Regions from separate parts of the Homo sapiens genome. Here all the other regions are linked to region 1. Evidence: fine-mapped expression QTL. A gene starts in region 1. Each other region holds a variant in brackets. All regions are shown on one strand. Distances are between the middles of the regions. Region 1 holds the start of PLPPR2 (phospholipid phosphatase related 2). Region 2 holds the start of TSPAN16-AS1 (TSPAN16 antisense RNA 1). Region 3 holds the start of TSPAN16 (tetraspanin 16).

The links. PIP is the estimated chance that this variant, and not a neighbour inherited with it, causes the effect.
Region 2: its variant is fine-mapped to the expression of PLPPR2 in whole blood (TOPMed, PIP 0.98).
Region 3: its variant is fine-mapped to the expression of PLPPR2 in whole blood (TOPMed, PIP above 0.99). The same link has a PIP of 0.9 or more in blood mononuclear cells and monocytes.

What each region holds. Positions count from the first base shown.
Region 1 is chr19:11,347,630-11,357,814 of GRCh38, forward strand. PLPPR2 (phospholipid phosphatase related 2) reads left to right here and starts at 7,803. Exons shown (of 10, transcript NM_001393892.1): 1 at 7,803-7,943; 2 at 9,173-9,347; 3 at 10,031-10,110. The coding sequence starts at 10,045. It overlaps CCDC159 (coiled-coil domain containing 159), which reads left to right. Exons shown (of 11, transcript NM_001080503.3): 2 at 2,025-2,058; 3 at 2,309-2,397; 4 at 2,489-2,570; 5 at 3,179-3,374; 6 at 4,277-4,344; 7 at 4,428-4,504; 8 at 5,822-5,943; 9 at 6,163-6,245; 10 at 6,951-7,067; 11 at 7,244-7,315. The coding sequence ends at 7,248. RefSeq lists enhancers at 2,841-3,341, 8,715-9,656 and a silencer at 7,623-8,072.
Region 2 is chr19:11,320,956-11,328,547 of GRCh38, forward strand. It overlaps RAB3D (RAB3D, member RAS oncogene family), which reads right to left. Exons shown (of 5, transcript NM_004283.4): 5 at 1,113-4,630. The coding sequence ends at 4,443. It overlaps TSPAN16-AS1 (TSPAN16 antisense RNA 1), which reads right to left and starts at 370. Exons shown (of 3, transcript NR_187778.1): 1 at 269-370. It also overlaps a transcript of TSPAN16 not described here. RefSeq lists an enhancer at 3,293-3,502. The variant A/G (reference allele first, on the strand shown) is at 2,874.
Region 3 is chr19:11,289,226-11,299,410 of GRCh38, forward strand. TSPAN16 (tetraspanin 16) reads left to right here and starts at 6,935. Exons shown (of 7, transcript NM_001282509.2): 1 at 6,935-7,141; 2 at 8,917-9,114; 3 at 9,647-9,721. The coding sequence starts at 7,073. RefSeq lists enhancers at 8,968-9,469, 9,470-9,969. The variant A/G (reference allele first, on the strand shown) is at 4,603.

The sequences.
Region 1 (10,185 bases):
TGAGTAGTTCTGAAGAGCGTGTAGGAGTCTTCCAGGTCGACTGAATCAGGCAGAGGGCCTGGCAAGGGTGACAGAGAGAAAGGTCTAGAGGATTTGGGGGAAGAGGCTGAGTGTGACTCAGGGCAAGGTGCCTTTCACCTAGAAGTTTCTCCAGGCAGACCTGCCCCAGATATCTCCATCTGTGCCATATGTGGCTATACTGGAGGGGGAGGGGAGTTGAATGTGAGACCCAGAGCTCAGCTGTTTCCTGTTTCCAGCCTCTTCTAGCACGGGTCTGGGCCCCAATTCAGCTAACATTTATTGAACAGATATGCCCTGCCTCTCCTGCTCACACTCTATGGCTGGCATTCACCTGTGGGGCCAGGTCGAAACTCCTGGCTTGGCCGTCAATGCCTTACTGGAGCTGCTCTGCTAACCTCCTGCTGCTTCCTCTCGGACCTCGATTCAGCCATCATGAATTTACCAGCATAGAGCATGTGATTCCACACCTCCAAGCTTTTGCACATGCTGCTCCCTGCCAGGAAAGGCCTTCCTTTAAGCCAATGTCAAGGTCCCTTTTTTCTTTGGACTCTTCTGAGGCCTGATTTTTTTTCTTTGGGGCCTTCTGGGTCCTTCTCACTGCCCAGCCCAAACCTTGGGGCTGGGATAATCTTTTTTGTTGTTGTTTTTTATTTTTGGAGACTGAGTCTCACTCTGTTGCTGAGGCTGGAGTGCAGTGGTGCAATCTCGGCTCACTGCCACCTCCGCCTCCCGGGTTCAAGTGATTCTCCTGCCTCAGCCTCCCGAGTAGCTGGGATTACAGGCGCCCACCACCATGCCCAGCTAGTTTTTGTATTTTTAGTAGAGACGGGGTTTCACCATATTGGCCACGCTGGTCTCGAACTCCTGACCTCAAGTGATCCTCCCGCCTTGGCCTCCCAAAGTGCTAGGATTACAGGCGTGAGCCACCATTGCTGGCCGCGTCTGGCCTTGGGATCATCTTTTATCCAGCTTTGGCTCCTACCATAACTGAGAAGCCTTGAGTTTAGGGCTGAGGCCTCTCTGGCATGTCAGGGAGGGTCTGGGGGCACTGGGGACATGGGGACTTATCTCAAAGCAGCCCCTGCTTCCCTACTCACAGCGACCCTCTTTTGGCCGGCCTACCCCGGGACCCTGACTACTCTGTGTCCTGCCTCTACTCACCTCCCTCACCCTCCAGCATGTGTTTGCCTGCTAACATGAAGTGTGACAAGTACTGGGGTTAGTTAGGGGGCTCCCATAGGGCTGGGGACACTGGGAGGGGCTGGGAATGTGAGGAGTGCCCTGCACTGTCCCTCAAGGAAGCCCTCACCCCTAGGCTCTTCCTCGGACAAGGCTCTGGAGCGTACAGCTCACTGGTCCAGGACTCCAGAGCCAGAGACCTTGGGATGCCCTGCTTCTGGGGACACAGTGAGGACTGCAGACTGCAGGCCAGGGTGGGGCTCAGGGCCTTCGCCACATGAGGCTGCCCCCTCCCCCAGTCCAGACCTGCAGAAGCAGTGCTGTAATGACCAGGACATTTTGAAGAGGCATCACAACGTAGCTAAGGTCACCCCCACCCGGGAAACCCCTTCAATGCAGAAAACCACTGCAATCTACTGCTGTGGGGCTTAGGGAAGGGGCTGTAAGGCAGAGAGACTCCCATGAATGCACCCACTGTGTTTCTTCAGCACCTAGAACAGCACCTGGCACTCAGCAGGCCCTGGCTAAGCAAGTCTTAAATGAATGGATGAAGGAATGAATGGAAGGAAAGAGTGTGGTTGTGTGTCTTCCATGGGGATTTGGCTGTGATCGTCTCTCAGCCACATAAGTGCACTTCTGAGCATATGTAGCCCAAGGGGGAGGTGCATGAATATGCCTGGAGTGCAGCTTTGCCTGCACTTACGGTTTGGGACACCTAGAACTGAGGAGATCCAACTCTTGTCCAGCCCTCAAAACTGGGTTGAGGTGAGCAAGGAGGCAGCTCAGGGACAAATTTCTACTCCCATCTCATCTCTCTTCCTTAGAAGCCCTTGGAGACCAGCTCTTCCAAAGTCAAAGGTGAGAAATCTCCTTTCCAACAAAACTGTGTGGGGAAGACCTGCTGGTTTCTACCTCTACCCTCTGCCCCAGCATCAGCTGTCCCCCTGCCATGGTCACCCATTCACTCCTGCCCAAGGCTGAGTGGGCCCCTGTTCTATATCTTATCCCCTGTCCCTACTGCTACTCTGAGCCTTTGCTGACCTCTGCCCTGCCCTTGCCCCAGACCCCACCCCTTACAGCCCTGGCTCACCCTCTTCTCTGCCCACAGCCAAGACCATTGTGATGATTCCCGACTCCCAGAAGCTCCTGCGATGTGAACTTGAGTCACTCAAGAGCCAGTTACAGGCCCAGACCAAGGTGAACCACCTTGGCCCTGCCCCCAGCAACCTCTGTTTCTCCTTGCCCTCCCCTCCTTCCTCCCACCCCAAGGCTGACCTCTTTCCCCCAGGCTTTCGAGTTCCTGAACCACTCAGTGACCATGTTGGAGAAGGAGAGCTGCTTGCAGCAAATCAAGATTCAGCAGCTTGAAGGTGAGGACTGACCAGAGATCAAGGTCAGGCTAGGCCAGGCGTGGTGGCTCACGCCTGTAATCCCAGCATTTGGGGAGGCCAAAGAGGTTGGATCACTTGAGGTCAGGAGTTTGAGACCAGCCTGGACAACATGGTGAAACCCCATATCTACTTAAAAAAAAAAAAAAAAAAAGCCAGGTGCTGTCACTCATGGCTGTAATCCCAGCACTTTGGGAGGCTGAGGCAGGTGGATCACCTGAGGTCAGGAGTTCGAGACCAGCCTGGCCAATATGGTGAAACCCCATCTCTACTAACAATACAAAAATTAGCCAGGCGTGGTGGTATGCACCTGTAGTCCCAGCCACTCAGGAGGCTGAGAAAGGAGAATTGCTTTCTGGGAGGCAGAGGTTGCAGTGAGCCGAGATCACGCCACTGCACTCCAGCCTGGGCAACAAAGCAAGACTTCATCTCAAAAGAAAAAAAGTCAGGCTGGAAGCTGGTCCTGTTGGGATCAGCTGGGCCAGGCCAGGGTGAGGGAAATTGGGAGAGTCTGGGTTCTGGGTCAAGATTAGGACAAGCTGGGTTCAGGGTGGGATCAGGGCTCAGTCAAGGTCCCACACTCTCTGCAGAGGTGCTGAGCCCCACAGGCCGCCAGGGAGAGAAGGAGGAGCACAAGTGGGGCATGGAGCAGGGCCGGCAGGAGCTGTATGGGGCCCTGACCCAAGGCCTTCAGGGGCTGGAGAAGACCCTGCGTGACAGTGAGGAGATGCAGCGGGCCCGCACCACTCGCTGCCTGCAGCTGCTGGCCCAGGAGATCCGGGACAGGTCGGGGATGGCGGGAGGGCAGCTTGGAGTCCACAGGAGGGAAGGGAGACCCAGAACTGGGGAATGGAGGCAGGATGGGGGAAATGGCAGATGCCTGGGGGAGGGGGACTGAGGGATGGTGGAAAGCCTGAGGGACAAGAAGAGGGAATGAGGCCGGGTGTGGTGGCTCATGCCTGTAATCCCAGCACTTTGGGAAGCCGAGATGGGCGGATCACCTGAGGTCAGGAGTTCGAGACCAGCCTGGCCAACATGGTGAAACCCCATCTCTACTAAAAATACAAGAATTAGTCAGGCATGGCGGCGGGTGCCTGTAATCCCAGCTACTAGGGAAGCTGAAGCAGGAGAATCACTGGAACCCAGGAGGCAGAGGTTGCAGTGAGCTGAGATCGCACCACTGCACTCCAGCCTGGGCGCCTGGGCGCCTGGGCGGCAGAGCGAGACTCTGTCTAAAAAAAAAAAAATGAGGAGGGGATGAGAGGCTCAGGGGAGACAGGTGGCTGGTGGGGGCGGGGGAGTGGGAAACTGAGAGGCCAGAAGGCAGGGAAGACAGAAAGCTGGAGGTGGGATGGAAAAGGAGGCCAGGGGATCAGAAAGGGGGATGGCAGGGAAGACTGAGAGGACAGGAGACTGGGGGTATAGAAAGTCGGGGGACAGGAGGTGGGGAGGTGGAGGCCAGGTGATAGGAGGCTGAGTGGGGTGGGAGAGACTGAGAGAATGGGAGGCTGGGGATCAGAAGGAGAGGAGGGGGATGAGGGTAGGGGGATTGTAGAAGGGGAGGGGAAAAGGGCAGGGAAGTGTGGGGAGGGGACAGAGCTTGCGGGGATGGGTGGAGGCACAGATAGGGGCATGGGAGGTCAGGGGCCAGGCAGGGAGTGCAGGTCTAGGCTGCACTGTCCCCTCAGCAAGAAGTTCCTGTGGGAGGAGCTGGAACTGGTGCGGGAGGAGGTGACCTTCATCTATCAGAAGCTCCGTGAGTTCCTGGAGCCCACAGCCGGTGTGTGGGGAGGGGGTCCTTCTTCAGCCTTTGTCCGCCTGAGCCCCCTCCCTCCACAGAAGCGCAGGAGGATGAGATCTCAGAGAACTTGGTGAACATTCAGAAAATGCAGAAAACGCAGGTGAAATGCCGCAAAGTGAGTGGAGGAGATGGGGACCCTGGGGAGGAGTGGGAGAGGGAGGGATGGGGATTTTGGCCAGCCTCCACCATGAGATTGGAGCCTGGGTTCAAATCTCAGCTCTGCCACTCACTGCTGTGTGACTGTGGGCAAGTCACTTGACCTCTCTGAGCCTCAGTTTCCTCATCTGTATAATGGATGTAATAATAACTCATCTTGGCTGGGCGCGGTGGCTCACGCCTGTAATCCCAGCACTTTGGGAGGCTGAGGTGGGTGGATCAGAAGTTCGAGACCAGCCTGGCCAACATGATGAAACCCCGTCTATACTAAAAATACAAAAATTAGCTGGGTGTGGTGGCAGGCACCTGTAATCCCAGCTACTCAGGAGACTGAGGATGGAGAATGGCTTGAACCTAGGAGGCAGAGGTTACAGCGAGCCGAAATCGTGCCATTGCACTCCACCCTGGGCGACAAGAGCAAAACTCCCATCTTAAAAAAAAAAAAGAAAAAAGAAAAAGAAAAAGAAAACTCATCCTGTTGGGTGCTGTGGCATGCCTGTTATCTCAGCACTTTGGGAGGCTGAGGTGGTTGGATTGCTTGAGGCCAGAAGTTCAAGACCAGCCTAGGCAACATGGCAAAACCCTGTCTCTACAAAAAACAAAAAAAACAAGAGGGTGTGGTGGCACATGCCTGTAGACTTAGCTACTCAGAAGGCTGAGGTAGGGGGATCACTTGAGCCTTGGAGGTTCAGGGTGCGTTGAGCCCTGATAGTACCATTGCACTCTAGCCTGGGCGACAGACTGAGACCCTGTCTCAAAAAAGAAACAAACACCAAAAACAAAAACAAAAAACAAAACAAAAAAAAACACTCCTCCCTACCTGATCAGGTGTCTGTATTAGCTGAGTACTGTGCACTTGAATGCAGTCTGGCATATAACAAGTGCTATATAACAGTCACCTTTTACTATTATCATTATTATTATTTATTTTGTTTTCTTTTTTGAGACGGAGTTTCCCTCTTGTTGCCCAGGCTGGAGTGCAATGGCGCGATCTCAACTCACTGCAACCTCTGCCTCCTGGGTTCAAGCAATTCTCCTGCCTCAGCCTCTCGAGTAGCTGGGACAACAGGCGCCCGCCACCACGCCCGGCTAACTTTTTGTATTTTTAGTAGAGATGCGGTTTCACTGTGTTAGCCAGGATGGTCTCAATCTCCTGACCTCGTGATCTGCCCGCCTCGGCCTCCCAAAGTGCTGGGATTACAGGTGTGAGCCACCGCGCCTGGCACTATTGTCATTATTATTATGACTGCTGTTCTCTCATCCCTCCCCACCCCAGATCCTGACCAAGATGAAGCAGCAGGGTCATGAGACAGCCGCCTGTCCGGAGACTGAAGAGATACCGCAGGGAGCCAGTGGCTGCTGGAAGGATGACCTCCAGAAGGAACTGAGTGATATATGGTGATGCCCAGCCTGCAGTCTGACCCCTGACCCTCCTCTGAACCCGTTCCCCCAACGGGATCTGGCAGTGACCACCAGAACCTGGAGCCCACCTGAGTCCAGACTTCCCTCACCCCCTAGGACTCACCCCACCACGGCCCCCAACCTTAGCTGTACTGCTGTCTACACCCTGAGCAGTGTGGAGTCTCCCAGCGCCCCCAGCTCCTTGTCTTCTTGCAGGTCTGCTGTGCACGTGCTGCAGAACTCCATAGACAGCCTCACTTTGTGCTCGGGGGCCTGTCCCAAGGCCTCGAGCCTAAGAGGTGAGGGAGGCTGAGAATTGCTCAGGGGTGGGAGGTCATTGTCTAGCTTCACAGGGAGGCTATGTTCAGAGAGCCTATTTGGGAGTCACATCTGATGGGTGTTATTCTATGGTCACATTAAGTAGTGTTCTGGGGTCACATTAAGGAGTCACTGGAGGTTTCATCCAGGAGTCATTCATGGTCACATTCAGAGTCACTTGGATCTTATATGAGTCCATGGGGACTCCACACAGTGGCTCATGCCTGTAATCCTAATATTTTGGGAGGCTGAGGTGGGAGGATTACTTGAGTCTAGGAGTTTGAGACCAGCCTGGGCAACACAGTGAGACCCCATCTCTCCAAAAAATTTAAAAACTAGCTGGGTGATGGTGCACCTGTGGCTGAGCACACCTGTAGTCTCAGCTACTCAGGAGGCTGAGACAGGAGGATCGCTTGAGCCTGCGAGGTTGAGGCTGCAGTGAGCCATAATCGTGCCACTGCACTCCAGTCTGGGCAACAGAGCGAGACCCCATCTCTAAAAAAAAAAGTGTCAATTGGGTAAAATGCAAGGGTCATTGAAGTCATAATTTGGTGTCACACTGGATCACATTCAAGGGAATTGGGGGTCATGGTTTAAGTATCAATGAGGTATACTATGAAGGGACACAGGGCCTATATTTGGGGGTTACTTGAGGGTCACATTCAGGGAACCTGTCCCTCCTGCAGGCCACAAGGGGCACCAGTGCCTGAGCCCTCCACTCCCCTCCTGGGACTCTGACTCCGACTGTGACCAGGACCTCTCCCAGCCACCTTTCAGCAAGAGCGGCCGCTCCTTCCCACCCGGTGCAGATCCTCCCCAGTCCCCCCCTCCACCCATTTCCCTCCTGACCTGCCCTTGACTCCCACAGTCTAGACCCTCAGAACAGGCCCAGATCCTGATCTGGGCATGCGGTCCCTGACCTGCAGCCCCGGAGTCCCCTGGACCTGGCCAGGCCCTGACCCACCCTCTCTCTCCACAGCTTGAGCAGCCGGGACTGCTCTCCCTGAAGACCCCTCCAGAGAGAAAATAAACTAGCCCAGACCCTCCTCTAGCCCCGACTGTTAGTCTTGCTGCTTCCTGTGCCTAGGAATCCCCCTGCCCTCCTAGTTTACCCCTCATTGTTGGGGGGGAGGGGTGTAGAGACCCCAGGGGTCATTCGGGATGTGTGGGCTTGGAATCAGGGGACATCTGAAGCCAGATTTAATATATGACAAGGCAAGGAGTCATTCTGTCCAGACACGAGCAGCCAGACAGACTTCCACACTGGCCACAGAGCCTTCCTTTCTGGGGGGCCCTGGCGAATGGGGAAACTGAGGCCCAGAGAGGGAGAGGCGCGGCCCAGGGACATACTCTGAAGCCCCTCCCTCCTATTACCCTCGGAGCCCCGCCCACCCCAGGGTCCTCCCTCTCTACTTCCATTCTTGGTTCCTTCCTACAATCGATGCTAACACGCCCCGCCTCCAAGATCACGGAGGCCCCGCCCCACGGGGCTATGCAAATGAGACGCCCGGAGGCCCCGCCCCTCCCTCCACCTCGGAGTCTGCGCGGCGCGGCCAGGCCCGGCCGACCGCGTCTCGGTCTTCGCGTCTGCCAGCCTGGCTGGCAGTCCGTCTGTCCATCCCGCCGCGCCGGGGCAGTCTAGGCGGAGCGGGGGCTCAGGCGGCGGCGGCCTCGACGCGGTGAGAGGAGGGGGTGGGGGCGCCCCTCATCCCCTCCCGTGGGCTTCCCACCCCCGGTGTCGGTCTCCGGTTCCTGAGGGTTGGGTCCCTCTGGGTCCAGCGCGGGGAGGGGCGGGGGAGGGGAGGCGGCGAGCTGGGGGAGGGGACCGGGCTGGGGGAGGGGACCCCGGGCCGAGGAGCCAGCACCGGTGGTGAGGGCGGCTGTGGGTAACTGTGATTGTGTGGTTGTCATTGTGTGTCTGTGTGTGGTTGTGTAACTGTCATCGTGTGGCTGCATGACTGGGATTGTGTGGTTTCGGGAGGTCCGCGGGTGTGTGTGTGTGTGTGTCACTGTCATTGTGCGGCTGTCGTTGTGGGTGTCACTCTGATGGTTTGTGTGTGTGTGTCTGGCTATGCTGTGACTGCCATTGGCCCCCCGTGTGGCTGCTGTCTCTGTGTGTGACTGTCTTGGTGTTCGTGTGGTTGTGTGCATAGGACTGTCATTGTGTGGCTCCTGTTGTGTGTTCATTCTGATGGTGTGTATGTGTGTGTGGCTGTGGTCGTGCGCTGTGCACCTTTCTTGTGTGGCATTGTGAGTCTGTGTCATGGTCCATGGATGTGGCCATGTGGTTGTAGATGGCACCTTGTCTCTCCCCTGTGACTGTTGGTGTGAATAAGAGACTGTTAGTGTGTGTGTGGCTGTCGCTGAGTGCCTTGTAATTGGGGGTGTGACGCTGTGATGAGTTCTGTGACCCCCATTGTGTGCGGTGACTCTTTTCTGTGACTCTTAAGTGTGTTGCAGGCCTGACTGTGTGTCCCTGACTGTAGCGGTGTGGGGGCTTGTGTGGGACTGTGATGTGTGTAGGGTCTCCTGACATGTCTCTCTCTGTTTGGCCTGGGGTGGGGGTGGGGACTTGTTTGATCTGTTTGGTGTCTCTGACAGGCTATGAGCCCACTGTGTGTGAGTATGCAGTGACATGTGTTGTGTGTGTTGGACACCTGTCTGAACAAGGGGGCCCCTCTTGTTTACTGCAAAGTGGCGCCCAGCACAGCGCCTGGAAGTCGGCAGGTGCTCGGTCTTCACTGTGGGATGGGTGAACGCTATGCCATGGTTGTGTGTGTGTGTGTGTGTGTGTGTGTGTGGTGCCAGGATGGAGGCTGCGGCTGGGTTGTGCTTCCTAAGGGTGACAGCATGGGTGACTCTGGGTATCTAGGACCTCTGGCAACCATCACCCCATATCACACTGCAGAGTGAGTGTCGTGGTTGGGGTGCTGGACCCAGAGTGCCTACCCTCGCCTGCCTGGGCCTCAGTTTCCACATCTGCACAATGGGGGTGACCATCCCTGCCCTGCTGGCTGCCAGGAGCGGCTGTGAGTCTTCAGGCGTGGATGCAGCCTGGGGGAAGCCATAGGGCGCTTTCACAGGTGAGATGGGGCTGGGAGAATGGATGCAAGCAGGTGTGACTGTGTTGAGCCCTAAAGCGCTGGGGACTGGGGGTAGCCTTGGGGGAGGGAAGAGGAGAACTGGGAGGCAGACCGGCTGGGAAGAGGGGGAAGGAGGGAGAGGCAGTTGGCAGAGAAGGAGGGCTTGGCTATCAGCCCAACCAGACACCAACACCACAGCCCATGGGGACAGAGAGAGGGGCCCCTGCAGAGGCCATGGAGGAAGCGACTCAGGGGAAGGGTCTGGTAGGGATGGGGGCCCCTTGGGAAAGAGGATGGTGTCCCCTAAAAACTAGTGGGGACCCTTCTAAGTGCCATGGGGGAGGGGTTCCCATGAGGCTGGGGAGTCTCTTCTAAAGGCCCACCTCCTAAAGGGCATTGGGTCAGAGCCTCCCATGTAGGCTGTAAAGGAAGGGACCCCCGTAGACTCTTGGGGAGTGGTGTCAGAGGAGGCAGGTGTCCCCAGTAGGGTCAGGACCAACAGGGCAGGACCTGGATTGCAGAGGCATGGCCAGAAGGTTCAAGGGACAGAGTCAGGGCCTCCCCGGGTCTTCAGGGCCAGGGGTGTGGCCAAAGGACTCAGGGGATGAAGCCAGGGTCCCGGTGACCTGAGCCTTCCCCTAGGCACACCCCCTGGGACTCCCACTCCCTCCCCACCTCTGCAGGCCTGGCCTTCACCATGGCGGGAGGGAGACCGCATCTGAAGAGGAGTTTCTCCATCATCCCCTGCTTTGTCTTCGTGGAGGTGAGGACCCCCGTACCTCTCCCAGAGACGGCGTGCCTATCTCTGTCTCTGTCCAACCTCAGTCTCCTTATCTGT
Region 2 (7,592 bases), 28 kb before region 1:
GTCAGGCGTTCGAGACCAGCCTGGCCAACGTGGTGAAACCCCGTCTCTACTAAAAACACAAAAATTAGCCAGGCGTAGTGGAGTGTGCCTGTAATCCCAGCTACTCGGGAGGCTGAGGCAGGAGAATTGCTTGAACCTGGGAGGCGGAGGTTGCAGTGAGCCAAGATGGCACCACTGCACTCCAGCTGGGTGGCAGAGTAGGACTGAGTCTCAAAAAAAAAAAAACAAAAAAATACCCAAAAAAACATAAGAGGTTTAATTTACTCACAGTTCAACATGGCTGGGGAGGCCTCAGGAAATTTACAATTATAACAGAAGGCAAAGGGGAAGCCAGATACCTTCTTCACAAGGTGGCAGGAAGGAGAAGAGCCGAGAGAAGGCGGAAGAATCCCTTATAAAACCATCAGATCTCGTGAGAACTCACTTGCTATCAGGAGAACAGCATGGGGGAACCGCCCCCAGGATTCAATGACCTCCACCTGGTCTCTCCCTTGACACGTGAGGATTATGGGGATTACAATTCCAGATGAGATTTGGGTGGGGACACAAAGCCAAACCATATCAACTGTGACTACCTTGGGTAAGGGCCATCCAGGCAGAGGCAGGGGGAACATTCTGGGCAAAGGCCTTGGGGCAGGGGCCTGGTATGTTCAGATAGCAGCAAGTAGGCCAGAGTGGCCGGAGGGGAGCAAGTGTGGGGAGGCCAGTGGAGAGATGAGGGTAGGGAAGGGATGGATCAGATCATGCAGGGCCCCGGGGGCCACAGGAAGGACCTCAGCATTTACTGCAAGTAAGGTGGGAGCCATCGAATGTTCTAAGCAGAGGAGGAATGCGCTGTGACTCAGGTGTTCACAGGTGCCCTCTTGCTGCTGGGGAGAGAACTGAGCTTTTTACTAGAAGTAGTTGAGGGAAATAGTGTCCTCCCTACCTTCCATATAACAGAGCTTTCCAAGGTCAAGGTGGTGGCCATGGGACCCAGTGGGAGGCAGCCCGAGGCCCGGTGAGGTTTCTGCTGTGTCTTGAAGAGCCCTTGACTGATATCTGCTTAGTTGCAAATCAAACCCCCTTTCCCAGAAACGCACTTCACTAATGGAAATAAAAGCACAACTATATTTGGGCACGACGGATTTAAGTTTTTCTTGTTGAGAAGAGTACATCTTTCCAAACTGGACATCAAGGAATTGCTACACAGAAGAACCACATCCAGGATAGAAAGGACCAGCCAGAGCTCGTTCAGTAGTGTATTTCAGAATCATCAGGGAGGAGCCGGTAGCAGAATTATCCCGTTAACACTGAGACCACATTTCACCTGTTACTTATTTTTCTAAATGGAGTAGGAGAGAAAGATGCTAAAATGTGATCTTGGGAGGAGTCCCCCAGTCCCCCGAAAAAGAAGAAGAAAAAAAAAAAGCAGAACTCCAAACCCCTGTGGTCATGGCAATTTCCCATCAAAACTGCCCATGTAAAATAAACACAAGCTGCTAAAAGTGAATGTTAAGAAGGAAGGCACTGGTTAGTGGGTGGTCCTGACCAATCCCCTGGAGCTGGAGAGGGGTTTTCCCACGGCCTTTGGTTTAATGTGTCTGTAAACTCAACAAACCTCCGTTTCCCTGAGGTAATCTGCAAAAACATCAGTTTTCAGTCCCCAGAGACCATTTCCAATTAAACCTCACCCCCCAAATCATTCAATGTAACATTTGCCTTATTTTTAGAAGAAACAAATGTTCCCATATTATTCCCAGTTTTTGAGAGAATCCTGAGGCAGCTCTCTCGGCTGCTACTTGAAGTTGAATTCTTGAAAAATCTTATGTAAACAGAAAGCTTAGGCCAGGTCAGGAGTAAAATGCAGTCAAAGCTGTTTCTCATCACACAGGTGATTACAGGTTAGCTCTGCCCTATTCAAGACAATCTGATCCATTCCTTTTTTTGACAGCAGTTTAGAGACAATTGGCCAACAAAACCAGCCTGGCCAACAAGGTGAAACCGTCGCTACTAAAAATGCAAAACTTAGATGGGCGTGGTGGCAGGTGCCTGTAGTCCCAGCTACTTAGGAGGCTGAGACAGGAGAATCGCTTGAACCCGGGAGGTGGAGGTTGCAGTGAGCTGAGATCATGCTACTGCACTGCGGCCTGGGCGACGAGCGACTCTCTGTCTTAAAAAAAAAAAAAACAAAAAAACCTCAGCAGGCCATACTGCATCTTGAGAAGTCTTTTTGAAGCTACTTTAGTTTGACTTTAGTGTTAAAGTAGCTAAAAATTTTTGACTCCCGCCCACATATTCAGATACCCTCACTTTGTGCATAGGATTTGTCCATTACACCTCAGTCATCTAATTTGTTGGTATAAAAGATACCCTCGGCTGGGCGTGATGGCTCACGCCTGTAATCCCAGCACTTTGGGAGGCCGAAGCAAGTGGATCACTTGAAGTCAGTTTGAGACAAGCCTCACCAACATGGTGAAACCCCTTCTCTACTAAAAATACAAAATTTAGCCGGGTGTGGTGGCAGGTGCCTGTAATGCCAGCTACTCGGGAGGCTGAGGCAGGAGAATCGCTTGAACCCTGGAGGTGGAGGTTGCAGTAAGCTGAGATTGTGCCACCGCACTCCAGCCTGGGCAATAGAGCGAGACTCTGTATCAAAAAAACAAATGAAAAAAAGATACCCCACTCCAAAGTTCTAAGGGTAGCCTCTGGTATGAAGAAACCAGGGCTCCCTAGAAATAAATCTAAACTTGAACCAGGCTTTCCCCCTCACACATACCCCAGGGAAGAGGCTGAGCTCATGAAAGCTGCAGGAAGTCATTTTGGCTTCAGGGGCTGGGAGAGCAGACACAACCTCTGAAACAGAGTCAGGGACGTGGGAACATAAAACATCC[A/G]CTTAGCCATCCTAACAGTGCTGGTCCTGTGAAGGGGTGTTGGTTGGTGTTTGGGAGCAAAGAAAAGGTGCTGCGCCCCTAGAGTTTGGAATCTGATGGGCAGAAAGTGCCTCTAAACCGGAGGTCAAGATGTACATCTTCAAACTGCACACGTAACCTCTGAGCAGAAGCCCCTGGAGGTGGGGACCCCAGCTTCAGAGACTCCCCGGCACTGATCACAGTCCATCCCCCCCATTCACATAAGGTCCTGCCACTCTCAGGCTGTCTACAAAGTACAAGCAGTGACAGCAAGTTACTCAATCCTACCTCCTCACCCCTTCCGCCCAACCCCCAGCATCCCTTAGAAGTGACCCCTAGTTTGAGGCTGTGGTGAGCTATGATTGCACCACTGCACTCCAGCCTGGGTGACAGAGCCAGACCATCTCAAAAAGAAAAAAAAAAAAAAAGAAGTGACTCCTCCATTAGCAAAAATTGTCACATCCCTGGGCCCTGCCGATGACAAGGATTGGGAAATGGACATTGGGTCTTGAAGGGCCCCCCTCAAGTCGGAGCCCAGGTGCTTACATCAGAAAGTCGCCGACAACTGCCTGCGGTGGCTGGGAACGTTGCTTCATTTCCTTTTCTAGCAGGATGCATGATTGGGCAAGAACTTGCTTAAAACACAACCAGCTAAACAGCTAAACAGGGCCTGGGAGGGAGGCCCCAGCCCCAGGCTCCTGGCTCTGAGGTTAATTAACTTCTGGCCGAAAGCCCAGAGCCGGAGTGCTAGGGGTTGGGCGAATCTCTGCCCAGTCTAATGTGGTCCATAGTTCCAGAATTCACTTCAGGATCAGAGATGTGGTGAACACAGCAAAAACAGTGGCAGGGTCGTGGGTGATGTGGATCTTGGGGGAAGCTTGGAAGGCACTTCTGGGGTCCCTGAAGCCGGGGGGTTGAGGGGATCTGACTCCCTGTCCCTTCTACAATGGGAAAAGGCTGCTTCAATGCTGCTTTTCGCAAGTAGAGGGTCTGCAGGGGTCAAAGGGATCACCATCCCACCTTGGAATCCAGAAAGTTCGTGGGGGCAGGCTCAGAGACCAGCCTGCAGGACCTGAGAAAGAGGCGCCGCCTTCCCTGGATGAACTCCAAGAACCCACACTGTGCGAGGAAGATGAACCATCTTCCACCAGCTTGGGAATATCAGTCCTGCCCAACCCAGAAGAGACCTGGAAAATGGTTCTAAGCTAGAAGGCACCACGGATGCCCCTCCATCAGAAAGAGTGGGACGTGTCACCCATGGCCACCCTCAACACACCCTGGAAAGCAGCAAGCTCATGCACGTCAGTGTCCCTGGGCCTCTGCCTGCCATGCAGAGCTGAGTCCCCATGGTCCGCAGCCTCCCACCGGGGCTGCCTGAGGAACCTGGCAGCCACGGCGACATTGTGAAGGAATGAGCCATGCAGGAGTCGGGGAGCAGTTGACAGGAGGGAAGGGATTGCCCTGAGCTTGGAGATAACCACTGTGGCTCACGCCTCGATCACAGTCCCTGCCGAGGCAGGAGAGGGGTGGGTGGGGGGTTGGGGGCCATCTCTAGCAGCTGCAGCTGCTGGGCTGGGGGGCTGGAGCATCCCCCACGGCCGGGCCTTTCCCGTTGCTGCCTGAGCTGGAGCTGGGTTCCAGGGACTCGTTCATCTTCTCGCAGATGACATCCACCAGGCGCTCGAAGACCTGCTTCACATTGATGTTCTCCTTGGCACTGGCTTCAAAGAACTCGAAACCTGGATGAATGTTAAGGTGGGGACACTCGTAAGACCCCTGAGGGCAGAGTCTCAGCTGTGGCATCACAGAAACCTGGCTTCTAAGCCTAGTTCTGCTCTTTATCCTGCTGTGGGACCTTGGTTGTGTGCCTTTGCCACTCCAAGCCTCAGTTTGCTCACCTGTAAAATGGGAATGATGATCCTACCAATGATAAAAATCTGTGGCAGGCCAGGCGCAGGGGCTTATGCCTGTAATCCTGGCACTAAAGGAAGCTACGGCGGGAGGATCGCTTGAGGCCAGGAGTTCAAGACCAGCCTGGGCAACATAGCAAGGCCCTATCTCTACAATAAATTTTTTTAAAAAGTAGATGGGCGGCCAGGTGAGGAGGCTCATGCCTATAATCCCAGCACTTTGGGAGGCCGAGGCGGGAGGATCATTTGAGGTCAGGAGTTCAAGACCCGCCTGACCAACATGGTGAAACCCCATCTCTACTAAAAAGACAAAAAATTAGCTGGGCATGGTGGCACGCGTCTGTAATCCCAGCTACTCGGGAGGCTGAGGCAGGAGAATTGCTTGAATCTGGGAGGCGGAGGTTATAGTGAGCTGAGATCACACCACTGTACTCCAGCCTGGGCAACAGAGCGAGATTCTATTAAAAAAAAAAAAATAGAGGGGCATGGTGGCGTTCACCTGCAGTCTCAGCTACTCGGAAGGTTAAGGCAGGAGAATGGTTTGAGCCCAGGAGGTCAAGGCAGCAGTGAGCCATGATCACACCACTGCACACCAGCCTGGGTGATGGAGCAAGACCCTGTCTCAAAAACAAAACAAAACGAAACCCTGCGGCTGCAGCCATGGTCTGGACAATCCTAAGATCTCTTTGTCACAAGGCAGTGGCTGCAAGAGTATAGGTGGGAGGGTACATGAAGAGTTCTGCTGCCCTGCGGCCATGGCAGTGCCCACAGGTGGCTATAGCTCAGCTTCCACCCAATTTCTGCTGCACAGAAAGGCATGGTCAGGAGACCCATCAAGTCACATTTTCCATTGCTTTTTTTAAAAGAGAAACGGTCTCTCTCTATTGCCCAGGCCGGGGTGTAGTGGTATGAACATGGCTCATTGCAGCCTCAACCTCCTGGGCTCAAGCGATCCTCCCGCCTTGGCCCCCTGAGTAGCTGGGGCTACAGGTGTGCCCCACCATGCCCGGCTAATTTTTCAATTTTTTCTTTTGTAGAGGTGGGGGTCTCGCTATGTTGCGCAGGCTGGTCTTGAACTGCTGGCCTAAAGCGATCCCCCCGCCTAGGCCTCCCAAAGTGCTGGGTTTACCAGCGTGAGCCACCACGCTGGGCTTCCTGCATCCTTTTAAGGTTCCTGAGGGTCTGCCTGAGAGGAGCTGTCCCTGAATCTCCATGCAGCCCCACCTGCCACATCACCAAGGTAAGCCAGGAATTCAGACAAACGCCTGCCACGTTACACGTGGCCAAGGGTAAGTGGACCTGTCTTCTCTGTGCGTCATGCTGAACTATGAAAATGGAATCATAATGAGTTAGCTGTGTAATTACCCATTTATTATCTGTCTCCGCTACTAGAAAGCCAGCTCCAGGCAGGCAGGATTTCCGCCCATGGCTGTACCCAGTGCCCGACACAGAGAGGGTGCTTAGAAACTGTCTGCTGAATGGTTGAATGAATGAATGGGTAAATGAACAATAGCAGGGGCAGGACATGAACTTAGATCTCCTACTGTCAGCCCAGAGATATCAAAGCCATCCCACTGTCTTCCTGGGCAAATCTGGTGTTTCCTTATCCACGCGTGGCTTTGCCTCATACCATCTGTGTTCTTTATTTTTCTTTTTGTTGAGACAGAGTTTTGCTCTTGTCGCCCAGGCTGGAGTGTAACGGCACGATCTCAGCCCACTGCAACCTCCGTCTCCCGAGTTCAAGCGATTCTCCTGCTTCAGCCTCCCAAGGAGCTGGGACTGCAGGTGTGAACCACCATGCCAGGCTAATTTTTGTATTTTCAGTAGAGACAGGGTTTCGCTATTTTGGCCAGGCTGGTATCGAACTCTTGACCTCAGATGATCCACCTGCCTCAGCTTCCCAAAGTGCTGGGATTACAGGCATGAACCACCGTGCCCAGCTTATTTTTCTGATATTAATCAGGCGTGGTGGTATGCGCCTGTAATCCCAACTACTCAGGAGGCCAAGGCAGGAGAATCACTTGAACCCAAGAGTTCAAGACCAGCCTGGGTAACATAGGGAGACCCTGTCTCTAAAACAAATAAAAATTTTAAAAAGGAAAAAAAATACATTTTTTGGATGTCATTCAATAGAGAAATTTACTGGAGAAACTAGAAACTACAGAAAAGTATTAAGACAGCCTATAATCCCAGTACTTTGGGAGACTGAGGCAGGTGGGTACCTGAGCTCACAAGTTTGAGACCAGCCTGGGCAACATAGCAAGACCCAGTCTCTAAAGAAAATATAAAAATTAAGGCCAGGCATGGTGGTTCACGCCTGTAATACCAGCATTTTGGGAGGCCAAGGTGAGCGGATCACTTGAGGTCTGGAGTTTGAGACCAGCCTGGCCAACATGATGAAACCCCGTCTCTACTAAAAATGCAAAAATTAGCTGGCCATGGTGGTGCACACCTGTGATCCCAGCTACTTAGGAGGCTGAAGCAGGAGGATCACTTGAACCTGGGAGGCGGAGGTTGCAGTGAGCCGAGATTGTGCCATTGTACTCCAGGCTGGGTGACAGAACAAGATATTATCTCAAAAAAAAAAAAAAAAAAAAGAAGAAGGTTGGGGGGTGCCAGGCGTGGTGGCTCACGCCTGTAATTCCAGCACTTTGGGAGACGGAGGTGGGCGGATCACGAGGTCAGGAGTTCGAGACCAGGGCCAATACGGTGAAACCCCGTCTCTACTAAAAATACAAAATTTAGCTTTGTGTGGTGGCACGTGCCTGCAGTCCCAGCTACTCAGGAGGCT
Region 3 (10,185 bases), 58 kb before region 1:
GGCTGGAGTGCAGTGGCGTGATCTCGGCTCACTGCAAACTCCGCCTCCCGGGTTCACATGATTCTCCTGCCTCAGCCTCCCAAGTAGCCAGGATTACAGGCGCCTGCCACCACATACAGCTAATTTTTGTATTTTTAGTAGAGACGGGGTTTCACCATGTTGGCCAGGCTCCAAACTCCTGACCTCAAGTGATCTGCCAGCCTTGGCCTCCCAAAGTGCTGGGATTATAGGCATGAGCCACCGCGCCTGGCTCCCGTTGTCAATTCTTTTAGTTAAGAATTTGAGCAGGTGTGGTGGCTCATGCCTGTAATCCCAGGATTTTGGGAGGCTGAGGCAGCCAGATCACTTGAGTCCAGGAGTTCAAGACCATTGCTAGAGCCTGTCTCTACCAAAAATGGAAAAAAAAAAAAAAAAGGCAGGTGCGGTAGTGTGTGCCTGTAGTCTCAGCTACTCAGGAGGCTGAGGCGGGAGGATCACTTGAGCCCTGGAGTTTGAAGCTACAATGAACTATGATCACATCACTGCACTCCAGCCTGAGCAACAAAGTGAGATCCAGTCTGCAAAAAAGCAACAAAGATTTCTGCATTCATTTTCTCAGCTTTTGAGCATCTTTTCCTCTAGTTGGACAATCTTATACTTAATCAGCTACTAATACTTTCAAAGGGCATTTAAGGCCGGGCACGATGGCTCACGGCTGTAATCCCAGCACTTTGGGAGGCCGAGGCAGGTGGATCACCTGAGGTCAGGAGATCGAGACCAGTCTGGCCAACATGGTGAAACCCTGTCTCTACCAAAAATACAAAAATTAGCTGGGCATAGTGGGGCATGCCTGTAGTCCCAGCTACTGGGGAGGCCGAGGCAGGAGAATTGCTTGAACCCAGGAAATGAAGGTTGCAATGAGCTGAGATTGCACCACTGCCCTCGGCCTGGGCAACAGAGTGAGACTTCGTCTAAAAAAAAAACAAAAAAACAAAAACAAAGGGCACTTAAGTTGTTGTTTCCAATCATTCACAAGTCAAGCGAGGCTTAAGAGCAGGCATTAGCAAAACTACATTCTGCCACCCATTTTTGTAAATAACAAAACCATCTCATATTATAAATAACATTTTATTTTGACAGAGTCACACTTGTTCATTTACATATATTTACATATTGTCCATTTACATATTTTCTATGGCTGCAATAGCAGAGTCCCAACAGAGACGGTATGGTCCGCAAAGCTGAAAATATTTACTTTCTGGCTCTTTCCAGAAAAATCTGCCAGCTCTTGGCCTATGTGCATTTGAATAAATCTGTAGTAGGAATTCCTAGAAGGAGAAACATTCCCCACAAGGTTTTAAAAGTCCATTTGCGGTTGTTACAGGTCCGCCTGTAATAAAATCTCCAAAAGCTATTTATGAGGTCTTTTTTTTTTTTTTTTGAGACAGAGTCTCACTGTGTTGCCGAGGCTGGCGTGTGCAGTGGCAAGACCTCGGCTCAACGCAACCTCCGCCTCCCGGGTTCAAGCGATTCTCCTGCCTCAGCCTCCTGAGTAGCTGAGATTACAGGCATGCACCACCATGCCCGGCTAATTTTTGCATTTTTGGTAGAGACGGGGTTTCACCATGTTGGCCAGGCTGGTGTCAAACTCCTGACCTCAAGTGATCCGCCTGCCTTGGCCTCCCAAAGTGCTGAGATTACAAGCGTGAGCCACTGCACCTGGCCAACCTTTTCAATGTGTTTAAGTGAGATACTTGAGGAATATGGGATGGGAACAGTCTTGGCCACCCTGGGACCAGCTGCCCAGACAACAGAGGGAATTAGAACCCGATCCCCCATGCTAACAAGAACAGAAGCCCCCTCGAGATGTGTCACCTGCATGCACTGGTCTGGGGCCACTCGCTGCTTCCTGAACTCTCATCAGGACCCTCCAGTCCTCCTAACCCTTCAAGGTTGATACCCCTGAAACCCTCCCTTCTCATCACTGCCTGGGTATACCTTATATACTAAATATTTTTAATATTATCAAGGATCTTGGCTGGGTGTGGTGGCTCATACCTGTAATCCCAGCGCTTTGAGAGGCTAAGTCAGGAGGATTGCTTGAGCCCAGGAGTTCGAGACCAATCTGGGAAACATAGCGAGACCCCTGTCTCCACAAAAAATAAAAAAATTAGCCGGGCGTGGTGGCACGTGCCATTGGTCCCAGCTACTCTAAAGGCCAAAGCGAGAGGATCGCTTGAGCCCAGGAGGGTGAGGTTGCAGGGAGCTGAGATCACACTACTGTACTTCCAGCCTGGGAGACAAAGCGAGACCCTGTCTCAAAAAACAAACAAACAAACAAAAACCCATCTCCTGGTTCTCCTTAATTTCACTTCCCTCTTTTCCAGCCAGAAGCTAAGGTAGCTGAAGGGGTAGAAATTGCAGATCTTTCTTTATGTAGCAAGAGAGAGGAACTGGGAAAGCAGTGAGTGTCCCTGTAGGACAGGGGTCTTCTTATTTTATTTTATTTTTTTGAGACAGAGTCTCGCTTTGTCGCCCAGGCTGGAGTGCAGTGGTGCGGTCTCGGCTCACTGCAACCTCCATCTCCCCAGCTCAAGCAATTCTTCTGCCTCAGCCTCCTGAGTAGCTGGGATTACAGGTGCCCACCTGTAATTAACCGCATCCAGCTAATTTTGTAGTTTTAGTAGAGACGGGGCTTCCCCATGTTGGCCAAGGCTGGTCTTGAACTCCTGACCTCAGGTGATCCACCCGCCTCGGCCTCCCAAAGTGCTGGGATTACAGGTGTGAACCACTGTGCCTGGCCTGACAGGGGTCTTCTGATCACTCCTCAGTGCCTCCCAACCCACCATACAGAGCACAAAGTGTTAACCCTAAGGCAGAATGTGAACATGGGGAAACAAATGCAATTTTAAAAAACAACCAGCCAAACAAAAAAATCCCTAATGGTGGAAATGCTGTTTGTTTTTTTTTCATTTGGTAGCAATGATTACCATCATGCTCCTCTCCTGCCACAATGACGTCAGCCCCTGATGCTGAAACTTGGTGACACTTCTGTGCTTGTCCCCAGTGAGGGCTGAGGTGCACAACCTGGGAACTCCTAGAACAAGTGACTGATGCCAAAGGTGTGGACCAGCCTCTGCAAGGACAGACACCTTTCTTTTGTGTGTCCCAGACTTTTTTTTTGGATGGTGGATTCTGATTTGCCTCCTTCCCCAACGATGGCTATTAAAATACCTGAAACCATAAAATGCCCCTTTGTCAAGGATGGATCTAGGTTTTGTGAGGCGTAAACAAATACATTTCTGCCGCAAAGTTTACATGAACAAGTGAGCAGGCGAACCTACTGCCGCGCTCCTCTCTGACCTTGAAGGGTGGGCGCAAGCTCAGGTCTCATTCATTCACTATTTGTTGTTCAGTGCTCCCAAACACCCAATTGTTGCCCTTGACAACAAACACATGAATTTAAGAAGAGGAGTTCAGGCCAGGCACGGTGGCTCACGCCTGTAATTCCAGCACTTTGGGAGGCCGAGGGGGGTGGATCACTTGAGATCAGGAGTTTGAGACCAGCCTGGCCAACGTGGTGAAACCCCATCTCTACTAAAAATACAAAAATTAGCCGGGCGTGGTGGCGTTGCGCCTATAATCCCAGCTACTCAGGATCCTGAGGCAGGAGAATTGCTTGAGCCTGGGAGGCAGAGGTTGCAGTGAGCCGAAATCGCACCACTGCACTCCAGCCTGGGCAACAGAGAAAGACTCCGTCTGAAAATTAAAAAAAAAAAAAAAAAAGAGGAGAGTTTGTTGACTAATATGGGTCGTTGACATAAATATTCTGTGTGTGATTGTATTCAACACATTTCATTTTTTGGTTGTGATTTTTTTTTTTTTTTTTTTTTTTTGAGACGGAATCTCGCTCTGTCGCCCAGGCTGGAGGGCAGTGGCGCGATCTCGGCTCACTGCAAGCTCCACCTCCCGGGTTCACACCATTCTTCTGCCTCAGCCTCCCGAGTAGCTGGGACTACAGGCGCCCGCCACCACGCCCAGCTATTTTTTTTTGTATTTTTTTTAGTGGAGACGGGGTTTCACCGTGTTAGCCAGGATGGTCTCGATCTCCTGACCTTGTGATCCGCCCGTCTCGGTCTCCCAAAGTGCTGGCATTACAGGCGTGAGCCACCGCGCCCGGCTGGTTAATTGTGCTTTTTAAAAAATATCTCCCATCCCCATAAATATGTACACCTACTATGTGCCCACATAATTAAAAATTAAACAATTTTAATCCCCTAAAAATAAAAAAGGAGACCAAGCATGTGGAGAAATAAATGTCTCAACACACCATAAGGGTGTATTGGAGTGGCCCTTCTATGATTTTGACAATGATATTAAACGTCCTGGCCGGGCGCGGTGGCTCATCCCTGTAATCCCAGCATTTTAGGAGGCCGAGGCAGGAGGATGGCTTGAACCTAGGACTTAGAGGTCAGCCCAGGCAACATAGCGAGACCGCGTCTCTACAAAAAAAAAAAAAAAAAAAAAAAGCAAGTATCTTGCATTTGCAATTCGTCGGATGCCTGCAAAGTTCCGTGGGTGTGTGATGTAGGAATCTGGGGCACGGGAAGTTATTCTTGCTTC[A/G]TTTCCTGACGCTGACCGGCTGGGCGGGGTCCCTGGGGCACCCGGGCACATTTGGACGTGTTTGGCAGGGAGAGTCCTGGCCCAGCCCCGGCACGTAGGGCCGCGCTTCCACGGGCCGCCGCCAGGAGACGCGCGAGGCTGTAGATGCGGCTTTGCAGAGAAGCTGGGAGGGTAGAGGGGCTGGGGCGGTCGAGGGGCGGGGCTGCGTGCAGCCGGCCCAGATTCCTTTCCGGCCAGTTCCTTCCAGGAGCTGCTCCCACGTCTACAGCGCCGTCTGCTACTCACCCAGCTCTCTTGTATCTGAGCCTCATTTTCCCACCGTCCTTTAAGCCCGTTTTCCCACTGCTCATTTGCAGCCAAGTTTCCATCTCGCATCTTTGCGTCCCCCTTCTCTGCACCCTCCTTTGCACCCCCATTTTCCTGCTTTCCCTTGAGTCCACATTTCCCAGACCTCCTTTGCCCCCTACATTTTCCAATGCTCTCTTGCATGCCCATTTATCACCCTCTTTTGTGCCCCCATTTCCAGGCCCTCAGCCCCTGGTTCTGAGGTTCCTTACTTCAAATGACCTTTTTTTTTTTTTTTTTTTTTTCCTGAAACGGAGGAGTCTCCCTCTGTCTCCCGGGCTGGAGTGCAGTGATGTGGTCTCGGCTCACTGCAACCTCCGCCTCCCGGGTTCAAGAGATTCTCCTGCCTCAGCCTCCCGAGTAGCTGGGACTGCAGGCACCCGCCACCACAACCGGCTAATTTTTTGTATTTTTAGTAGAGACAGGGTTTCACTGCATTAGCCAGGATGGTCTCGATCTCCTGACCTCGTGATCTACCCACCTCGGCCTCCCAAAGTGCTGGGATTACTGGCGTGAGCCACCGCGCCTGGCTTCAAATGACCTCTTAAATAAAGGTGTGGAAGGACACACTCCTGGCTGTGAACAGCACCCGTGGTCCAGGAGGAGACAGCACTCCTCTGTGAACATCTTGCTTAGTTCTACATGTTCCAAGAAGCAGGCGATTTGACAGACATTCATTAAATTAATTAAAGTGTAAGGTATTTTCTCCCATTTGAACCATCCGCCTTCCCCCAATCCATGCAGGACCTGGACCCAGACACACCCCAGCCCAGGGCTGGACAGAGAGGGGATCGGGGTGGGGCAATGTGAAGCTGCTATGGTTAGGGTGGGGAGGTATGGGGGCAAAGTGGGCTACAGACTGCAGGATCTAGGCCTGGAGGTCTTCAGTGCTGACATACAGAAGGTTTTTGGTCCTGAAATGCTAACTACATCTATCACCATGGAGAAAAGCCCAATGACCTGCTACTTGGGAGGCTAAGGTGGGAGGATCACTTGAGCCAGGGAGGTCGTGGCTGCAGTAAGCCATGATCACACCACTGCACTCCAGCCTGGGCAATGGAGCAAGATCCTGTCTCAAAAGAAAAAAACCCAGTGACCAATGGCTCACAGTTCCAGGACTCTCTGCCTTACAGGTTCCTGCCCTCATGTTACTCTTGGGGCTTCAAAGCCTGGTCTTGCTTCCTGTGTGGCCTCAGGCAGTTCCCTTGGCCTCTCTGAGCCCTGTATGAAGGATGGGCCAAGTATGGGCTTGGGCTTGGGAGGCCCGGTGGCTTGTAGCTAGATTTCTGCATCACAGAGCCTCTGGATCCATTCATTCATTCTCCGCGGGTTTCTTAAGTACTGCAGTGCCAGGCTTTGGGGACACAGCTGTTTTTGTTTTTGTTTTGTTTTGTTTGAGACAGAGTCTCACTCCGTCAACCAGGCTGGAGTGGAATGGCACGACCTCAGATCACTGCAACCTCCACCTCCTGGGTTCAAGTGATTCTCCTGCCCCAGCCTCCCAAGTAGCTGGGATTATAGGCGTGTGCCACCACACCCAGGTAATTTTTGTATTGTTTGTATTGTTAGTAGGTCTCAAACTCCTGACCTCAGGTGATTCGCCCGTCTCCGCCTCCCAACATGCTTTGACTACAGGTGTGAGCCACTGCGCCTGGCAGGGGTCACAGCTGTTAATAGGACAGCCCAAGTTCCCCCCTCCCCCGCTTGGATCCCCCAGTCTACTAGGAGATGTCAACTGTGCAAGTGGTTAGCTCTGGGCACTATGCCCACAGGGTCCTGGTGGCATCTGGAGGGTACCAGGGTAGCATACCATGCCTGTTCTCTTTCCCTGCTGTGACCTGTTTGAAGGATGAGGAGCCAACAGGGGGCAGTTTGGGGCACCTGATTTCCCTGGACCATGAGCCTTGCTCCAGAACCCAATTGTGATGTGATAAAAGGCTTATGACCAGGGCAGGGGGCAGCTGCTGGGCCGCCTTGGACAACCATCAGGCAGCCAGGACACAGAGGGGCAGAGCAAGTCAGCATTGGCGCCCCTTCCTCAGATCCCTATCATCTTGGGAAACAGTAGCCCAGAGGTTCAGGAAGATGTTAACTTAAATGTTCAGGGTGCCCCAGTCTGTTCAGCATGGCTGAAATCCACACTCCGTATTCTTCCTTGAAGAAACTGTTATCTTTACTCAATGGCTTCGTGGCTGTAAGTATGTCACAATCCAGGCCCCTGGTTTGTTGCAGCCCTTCCTCCACAGTCAGCTCCCTGAAAGACAGAAATAAGTTGATCCAAATTGGCATCGAGATCTGTGGTTCCCTGGAGAAGCAGGAGGGATGTAGGGCAGACGGAGGAGGAGGAGCAGGGAGCGTGGGGACCTCCATCAACCGAGAGCTGGTGAAATCCAGCACAGATGAGTGTGATCTGGGGGAGCCCAGGTGGGTGATGGAAGAGCTTGGCTCTAAGTCAAATCCTGTAGCCGACCAAGTTGTTTGGGAAGGCCAGGAGAAAGGGTTATTTTCTTGATCTTTTAAATTTGTCACATTTTTTTCCTTACCGTAAAAGTAACCCGAAATGTACATTGCTAAGGAATTGTCAGGCCGGGGGCGCTGGCTCATGCCTGTAATCCCAACGCTTTGGGAGGCCAAGGCGGGTGGATCACGAGGTCAGGAGTTCAAGACCAGCCTTGGTCAATATGGGGAAACCCCATCTCTACTAAAAATACAAAAAAATTAGATGGGCGTGGTGGCACGTGCCTATAATCCCAGCTACTCAGGAGGCTGAGGCATGTGAATTGCTTGAACCTGGGCGGCAGAGGTTGGCAGTGAGCCGAGATTGTGTCACTGCACTCCAGCCTGGGCAACATAGCGAGACTCTGTCTCAATAAAAAAATAAAAGAATAAAAACATAAAAAGAAGTAATTGTCTTCATTGTAGCATAGTCTAAGGAAAAGCTGCCAGGAAAGAGAAGGAAATGAAATATCACTCCTCCTCTTCACTTGTAACATTTTAAAGAGAATTAAGGCCGGCTGTGGTGACTCATGCCTGTAATCCCAGCACTTTGGGAGGCCGAGGTGGGCAGATCCATTGAGCCAGGAGCTCGAGACCAGCTATAGTGAGATCCCCATCTCTATTTAAAAAATAATAATACAAAATAAAGTGTTATTGGAACATGGCCGTGCTCACTTATTTGGAGATTGTGAACAGCTGCTTTTGGGCTACACCAATAGAACTGCGTAGTTTCAACAGACACCTTAAGTCCTGCAGAGGCCACAACATCTGGGTTTTTCAGAAAAAAAAAATTGCTAATCCCTGTCCTATGACATTATTTTATTTTATTTTATTTTATTTTATTTTGAGACGGAGTCTTGCTCTGTCACCCAGGCTGGAGTGCAGTGGCATGATCTCAGCTCACTGCAACCTCCACCTCCCAGGTTTAAGCGATTCTTCTGCCTCAGCCTCCTGAGTAGCTGGGATTACAGGTGCCCACCACCACGCCCGGCCAATTTTTGTATTTTTAGTAGAGACAGGGTTTCGCCATGTTGGCCAGGCTGGTCTCGAACTCCTGACCTCAGGTGATCCACCTGCTTCGGCCTCCCAAAGTGCTGGGATTACAGGTGTGAGCCACTGTGGCTGGCCTATTTTATTTTTTGAGACAAGGTCTTGATCTGTCATCCAGGCTGGAGTACAGTGGCACAGTCATAGCTCACTGCAGTCTCAACCTCATGAGCTAAAGTGATCCTCCCACTGCAGACACCTGAGTAGCTGAGACTACAGGCACGCACTACTACTGGCTATTTTTTTTTTGTTGGGGAGAGGGTACAGATGAGGTCTTACCAAGCTGGTCTTGAACTCCTGGGCTCAAGTCTTGGCCTTGGCCTCCCAAAGTGCTGGGATTACAGGCATGAGCCACCGCACTCACCCAGTTCTATTTGTATACAACTAACAGATTACTTTTCTTCCTTTCTGGTTTCTGTTCTAAAGGTGTCTGGCATCATCCTAGTTGGCCTGGGCATTGGTGGTAAATGTGGAGGGGCCTCTCTGACGAATGTCCTCGGGCTGTCCTCCGCATACCTCCTTCACGTTGGCAACCTGTGCCTGGTGATGGGATGCATCACGGTACTGCTTGGCTGTGCCGGGTGGTATGGAGCGACTAAAGAGAGCAGAGGCACGCTCTTGTTTGTAAGTTGGATCTGCACACAGACCCCAGAACTGCCTCCCCACACACACAAATCTTTTATTGTGCGTGTTGCAAACAACTTTGCTTGGTGTCACCTATTTTTTTTTTTTTTGCGGGGACAGGGTTTCACTCTGTCGCCCAGGCTGGAGTGCAGTGGCACAATCTTGGTTCACTGCAACCTCTGCCTCCCAGGTTCAAGCGATTCTCCTGCCTCAGCCTCCCGAGTAGCTGGGATTACAGGCACCCCTACCATGCCCTGCTAATTTTTGTATTTTTAGTAGAGACGGGATTTTGCCATGTTGGCCAGGCTGGTCTTGAAGTCCTGACCTCGTGATCCACCCGCCTCGGTCTCCTAAAGTGCTGGGATTACAAGTGTTGAGCCACTGCTCCCGGTCGAATTGTTTTAAACTGGAGAGGCCAGGGTGGCCTGGGGTGGAGGGTCGGGGGAACAGAGACAACCCCTCACCTGCAGGGTATAAGGTCGGGAGGAGGCTGAGCAGGCTCCCAGGCCCTCTCTCCCCGTGTGTCTTTTAGTGCATCCTGTCAATGGTTATTGTCCTCATCATGGAAGTTACAGCTGCCACAGTGGTCCTTCTTTTCTTTCCAATTGTAAGTACAGCCCTGCTCCTCCCACATAGCATTAGAAAGATAAAGAACCAAGGACGGGCACAGTGGCTCACGCCTCTAATCCCAGCATTTTGGGAGGCTGAGTCTGGTGGATCACCTGAGGTCATGAGTTTGAGACCAGCCTGGCCAACATGGTGAAACCCCGTCTCTACCAAAAATACAAAAAATTAGCCAGGCGTGATAGCACGCACTTGTAATCCAGCTACTCAGGAGGCTGAGGCAGGATAATCCCTTGAACCCGGGAGGCAGAGGTTGCAGTGAGCCAAGATTGCACCACTGCACTCCAGCCTGGGCAACAGAATGAGACTCCGTTAAAAAAAAAAAAAAGATATAGAACCAATAGAAGTCCGCCCCTCCCCGCCAGGCACCCATGATCGATTGTGGGGACCCAGTGATGGAGGGGCCCATCACACGTGCCACCTTTGATGGTGTGAGAAGCTGAAATC